2 separate regions of the Homo sapiens genome follow, and region 2 is linked to region 1. The links come from fine-mapping of genetic effects on gene expression. A gene starts in region 1. The other region holds a variant in brackets. All regions are shown on one strand. Distances are from middle to middle.

What was found.
Region 2: its variant is fine-mapped to the expression of HCST in ovary (GTEx, PIP above 0.99).

Annotation. Positions count from the first base shown.
Region 1 is chr19:35,901,281-35,904,178 of GRCh38, reverse strand. HCST (hematopoietic cell signal transducer) reads right to left here and starts at 1,650. Exons shown (of 4, transcript NM_014266.4): 1 at 1,543-1,650; 2 at 763-828; 3 at 276-407; 4 at 1-59. The coding sequence starts at 1,585. The coding sequence ends at 19. It also overlaps a transcript of NFKBID not described here.
Region 2 is chr19:36,113,393-36,116,290 of GRCh38, reverse strand. It overlaps OVOL3 (ovo like zinc finger 3), which reads right to left. Exons shown (of 4, transcript NM_001302757.2): 4 at 2,580-2,838. The coding sequence ends at 2,630. POLR2I (RNA polymerase II subunit I) reads left to right here and starts at 1,416. Exons shown (of 6, transcript NM_006233.5): 1 at 1,416-1,493; 2 at 1,578-1,632; 3 at 1,879-1,952; 4 at 2,040-2,114; 5 at 2,225-2,276; 6 at 2,474-2,582. The coding sequence starts at 1,435. The coding sequence ends at 2,536. It overlaps TBCB (tubulin folding cofactor B), which reads right to left and starts at 823. Exons shown (of 6, transcript NM_001281.3): 1 at 617-823; 2 at 107-250. The coding sequence starts at 730. RefSeq lists enhancers at 93-182, 1,773-1,902, 1,921-2,432 and a silencer at 493-582. The variant C/A (reference allele first, on the strand shown) is at 1,318.

The DNA.
Region 1 (2,898 bases):
GTCCAAGCTGCAGGAGGGTCAGCCCCTGCCTGGCATGTTGATGTAGACTTTGCCATCTTCTGGGGATAGGGGAGAGAAAGCATGAAGCTTGACCACCCATATCTCCACTTCCCTGGGGACCCCCTGCTTCAGGGGTTTCCTCAGGGGTTCCCCCAGGCACCTCCCCCAGGGTTTCCCCAGCACCTCCTCCAGGGCTTCCCCAAGGGCCCCCTCCCTGGGACCCCCTCCCTAGGGACACTATACACCTTCCAGGCCCCGCCCATCTCCGCCCTCACCTTGGGCGGGGCTGCGGCGTGGGCGTGCGCACAGGAACACCGCCCCCACGATGAGCAGCGATGCCACCGCATCAGCAGCCACGAGGCCTGCCAGGAGCGGCAGAGAGAGGGACCCACATCCGGAACAAGAGCCTGGAGAGTGGGGGCCGGAACAGGGAGACAACTCAAGCTCTGCGTCCTGGGGCTGTGCTTTGGCCACAGGCAGAGAGGAAGTCCCCTGCGAGGGGGCGGGTCCCAGGTTCCTTGGAGTTGCGCTTGGGGAATGAAACGGGAGACAGATGCAGAGAGGCTGGGGTGTCCCAGGACCCTCGGGGCTGTGCGGCGGGCACACGGGGTGCTCCTGAACACAGGCTGGGGGTCGCTGATTCTGGGACTCGGAGAAGGACACGGATCCTCTGATTTGGGGACGGGAGGTGGGATGGTGACCTGGAGAACCACTGGGGTGTTCTGGGAGCCTCTGGCCAAGCTTCTGGGGTGGAAGTGATACCTGAAGTGCCAGGGTAAAAGGCAGGGAGTGATGATCTCTCTCCTGGAGTCGTCTGAGCTGCAGCCACTGTGGAAAGAGAAAGAAGGTGGATGAGGGTGGAGAGAAGGTCCACAAAACAGAATGCTCAGCCTGGCACCGTGGCTCACGCCTGTCATCCCAGCACTTTGGGAGGCCGAGGCAGGAAGATCGCTTGAGCCCAGGAGTTCGAGACCAGCCTGGGCAACATAGTGAGACCTCGTCTCTACAAGAAATACAAAAATTAGCTGGAAGTGTTGGTTCACACCTGTAATCCCAGTTACTCGGGAGGCTGAGCTGGGAGGATCACCTGAGCCCAGGAAGTCAAGGCTGCCGTGAGCCGTGATTGTGCCACTGCACTCCAGCCTGGACAACAGAGCAAGACCCCATCTCAAAATAAACAAACCAAAAAATAGGGTGTAGAGAAGGAAAGGTAGTGTCCTGAGAAGTAATCTCCAGGCTGGAGAGATGGAACAGGACCACATGGGAAGGGGACTCCCAGAGACATGGAGAGTGACAAGAAATTGGAAGTGGCAGCAGAGACCCAGCCATGAGAAGGGGACGCTAACAGGCAGCCCCTCCAGAACTCCCTGTCTCACCCCCTTCCGCCCCCAAGGACCCAGGCCCTGAAGCAGAATGGATCTCCCAGAAGGGAAGGGGTGCAGGGAGAAGAACCCCACTTTCATCACCCGTCCCTGCAGACGTCACCCAAGCACCCATCTCACAAACGCTCTGCCTACCATCCCCTGTAACCACTGGCTTCACCTGGGAGCAAAAGCAGGAAGAGGATGTGACCCAGATGGATCATGGTGGACTGGGGTCTGGCAGGGGTCTGGCAGAGGACTGTGGTCCAGAGAAGTCCAGAGGAACTGTGGGGGAGCAGAGAAGTAGCAATAGCGGATGTCACCCTGCTGGTGTCAAGGCCATCTGCTTCCTGTGTGTGTTGAGGGGGTGTCTCCGTTACTGCCTTTGGTGAACGAACTCAGGGGGAGGGTCAGAGAGACCAGGGAGGCTGCTGGCCTGGTCCAAGTGGGAATGACAGGTGGCAAGGGTGTGCAGGCTAGGGAGATCTGGAAATATTTTGGAGGTAGGGCCAAGAAAATTTGCTGATTAAATGAATGTGGGTGTGTTTGAGAGGGATCCTAGACAGCCAAGCCTTCTGGCATGAAACGCTGAGAAGATGGGAGTGTCTGCTGGCAGAGATGAAAGGTAGGGAAGTGGGTTTGCGGGGAAAGTGACGAGGTTTGGGCATACAGGGTTGGAAATGCCTGACAATCTCCCTGTGGAGATGCTGAATAACCTCACTGCATTTAGGAGTTCAGGGGATAAGGCTGGTCTGGAGATGTAAATTTGGGGGTTGATGGCTTATGGATGGTACTTAAAGCCACAAGACTGGGTGAGATCACCAAGGAAGTGAGTGCAGACAGGATTCTGCCCCTATCACAACACACACTGAATGGGGGAAGAGGAGGAACTTTGCCAGGGAAATGGAGAAAGAGGGAGGGGACCCCTGAGAGCATGGCATCTTGAAAGCAGGGGAGAGGCCACCGCAGTGGCTCATGCCTGTAATCCCAGCACTTTGGGAGGCCAAGGTGGGGGGATCACCTGAGATCAGGAGTTCAAGCCAATATGGTGAAACCCCGTCTCTACAAAAATACAAAAATTACCCGGGCATGGTGTCAGGCTCCTGTAATCCCAGCTACTTGGGAGACTGAGGCAAGTGGAGGTTGCAGTGAGCCGAGATCTCACCACTTTGCCACTGCACTCCAGCCTGGGCGACAGAATGAGACCCTCTCTCTAACAATAAAAATGTAATAATAAAATAAAATAGAAAAGCAAGCAAGCAGGGGAGAAATAGGGCCAACATGGTCAGTGCTGTGAAAGGTCACCAAGTGAAACTGAGAGTGGCCTCCCACTGGAATGCCAGCTCCAGGGCTGGGAATTCCTGCCTGCTTAGTTCACAATACACAGCAAAATGCCTCCTCTGCTGCAATAAATTATTTTAAATGATGAATGAGTAAATGAAACCAGACCTCTAAAAAGGGTGATGTAGGGGAGAGGGAGAAATTGAGCCACACCCTATACCCTTACCCACAGACCCTTCCTCTGGGAGTCTAGACC
Region 2 (2,898 bases), 210 kb before region 1:
GGCAGGACCTATCTCGGGTATGACTGAGGGCAAAGCCCAGCAAGTGTCTGTTGAATAACCAAATGAAAGGTGGGGTGGGGGAGTGTCCCAGATAGAGAGTCCTCACGTGGATGCGGCAGCCGTCATCTACAGGGTAGGAGCCCAGGAGCGCATCCTCTTGATCCAGCTTGCTGTAGAACTTGTCGTCAACTCCATACAGCTCCAGTTCCATGCAGGAAGCAGGGCTGCCCACCAGCAACTCCAGTTTACACTGTGAGGAGGAGGCAGGGTGAGAAGAAGGAGGCCACGGAGGCCCCGCCCCTTGCATCAATGACCATCGCCACGTCCCTTTTCCTCCAAAAGACCCCCCAGTCAGGACGCACGGGGCCGCAATCCAGCCCCTCGCCTCTTGCCCCCGCCCTCTGGACCGTCGGATTTTTCGCTGGACCCGGCCCTCATCTCTGCACTCTCGAGTTCTCTCCGGACCCGCCCCGCCGCGACCGGGTCCCCAGCCTCCGCAGCCTGGGATCACCTCCGGGCCCGCCCAGTCACTCCCCGGCCCCTCCCAGCCTCCCCCTTCCGGGAACCCCCCAATTTCTTCGCCCCGCCCCTCCGGACCCCGCCCCCATGGCCACACCTTGAACTCAGCGATGGTGAGGCTGCGGCTGTATCGCTTCTCGGAGCGGAAGGTGTTGAGGGAGCTGCTGATGAAAACGGTCACCGTGGGTGCCGACACCCCCGTCACCTCCATCTTGCCGCGCCCTGCGGATGCCTGCAGCGCGGTCCAGCCGCCTCACACCCGCTCCGCAGCCGCCGCCGCCGCTGCTGCTGCTGGGCTATCAGCCCCGCCTCCTGCTCCGTGCCTGACCAATCCGCGCTCTCCTGCCAGGAGCGTCCGCCAATCGCCGCCGTCCCTTCCCCACCGCCAGGAAGAGGGCTCTCCTTACTCTTGGGCCAGCCCAGCCAATCCAGAGGGGCCTTCCATAGTTCACGGTTCTTCCAATAGCGGCCCGGGAAAGGACCAGAACAGGCGGCGAAGACTGAAGCCCGGAGGTAGGAGTGGCAAGAGCTCGCCCAGTCCGCGAAGGGTAAACTCGCGCATGCGCACTGGCCTTCAACCAAGCCAAGCGCCTTGGCTTCTGTCCTGGATGCTCAGTGTTTTGCGGTTTACGATGCGCATCGTTTTCCCGGCTCTGGCACCAGATCCATACTATTCTGTAAACTGAGGCGGCGATGCCCAAAAATTGGAAGCAATTACTCTAAGATATCAAAAGATTGAAGCAAGCCATGAAACCTCTGCGCGGAGAGAGCCGAGCCCGAGGCGGCGGGGAGCCAGCA[C/A]GTGTGCGCAGCTCCGCCCTCTTTTGGCGAAGCACCTAGGCCTGGCCCCTCCCGCGACCTGTAGCGCGGCGGAGCAAGCGCGGAAGGCTGGGAGGGCTGCGCGGGCTGCGCGTCGCCATGGAGCCCGACGGGACTTACGAGCCGGGCTTCGTGGGTATTCGCTTCTGCCAGGAATGGTGAGGCGGAGGGAGCGGGTGATGTTAGAAGGCGGGCGAGGAATGGCTCCAGAACTAACCCCTGGCACCTCCCCCTCCCCACAGTAACAACATGCTGTACCCCAAGGAAGACAAGGAGAACCGCATTCTGCTCTACGCGGTGAGCGCCGGGGTCTTCCCCGGCAGGTCCACCTGTTCCCAGCGTGGCCCCGCCCTGCCCCCTGCCTCTGTGATCGGACTCCCTGTTCGCCCTCCGCTGCACCTCAAGTGATCCTGACTCTCATGTCCTGCCCATCCCCAAAGAGAGTCCTGTCGTCATATCCTCCGGGATCACCCTGCCCTCTCCTCCCAATCTTGTCTGGAATCCTTCCGTGACCCCCTTTCCCCCACACTCGCCCTCTCGTAGTGCCGGAACTGTGATTACCAGCAGGAGGCCGACAACAGCTGCATCTATGTCAACAAGATCACGCACGAAGTGGAGTGAGTGGCGGGCCCTGAGCTGGGGGCGGGGGTGTTGGCTCTGGAGGCTGGGTCTGAGCGTAATTTTGCACCCCCGCGTCCCTGCAGCGAACTGACCCAGATTATCGCCGACGTGTCCCAGGACCCCACGTTGCCGCGGACCGAGGACCACCCGTGCCAAAAGTGAGCGTTCAGCTGGTACTGGGGAGGTAAAGTGAGGCTCGTCTCCTCACTGGGCGAAGGGAGGAGGGAAGGGTGTGAAGCCTCCGGTGACCGAGCCCCTACCCTCTCAGGTGCGGCCACAAGGAGGCTGTGTTCTTCCAGTCACACAGTGCGCGGGCCGAGGTAAGTGGCGCGAGGGCTTTCTAAGTATCTGGGGCTTGTTTGGTCCTTTCTGGGGGCGGGGATATCAATGTGGGTGACCCTGCGCTTCTTGGAACTCTGCCGGGCCCTTACCTATTGGTGAAGTTCTCTTGCCTGTTCTTTTGGGGTAAGGCGCTGCTGGGTCCAAATCCTTCCTAACCATGCATCATTTCTGCCAGGACGCCATGCGCCTTTACTACGTGTGCACAGCCCCACACTGCGGCCACCGCTGGACCGAGTGACCTCCTCTCTCCCCCGAGTGTAATAAACACCAGATTCCATGCGTGAGTTTTCTGTGTTTATTTGCCTCGTGGGGAGGACGCTGGCACACCGTATCAGGCTGCGCGGTGCAGGGCGCGGTGCTGTGCGTAGGTGTCGGGCCGGGAGCTGGTGAAGCCGCAGTCCTCGCACACGTGCAGCTTCTCGCGGCGCTCACGGTAAGCGTAGCTGGCCGGCTGTCCATGCACCTTAGCAAGGTGAGCTTCCAGGGAGCAGCGCTGCGTAAACGCTTTCCCGCAAGCACTGCAGCGGAAGGGCCGGATCCCTGCACAGATGGGCGCAGAGGGGAGGGCTGGACAGAGAGGGCAATGGGCTCTGGACTAAA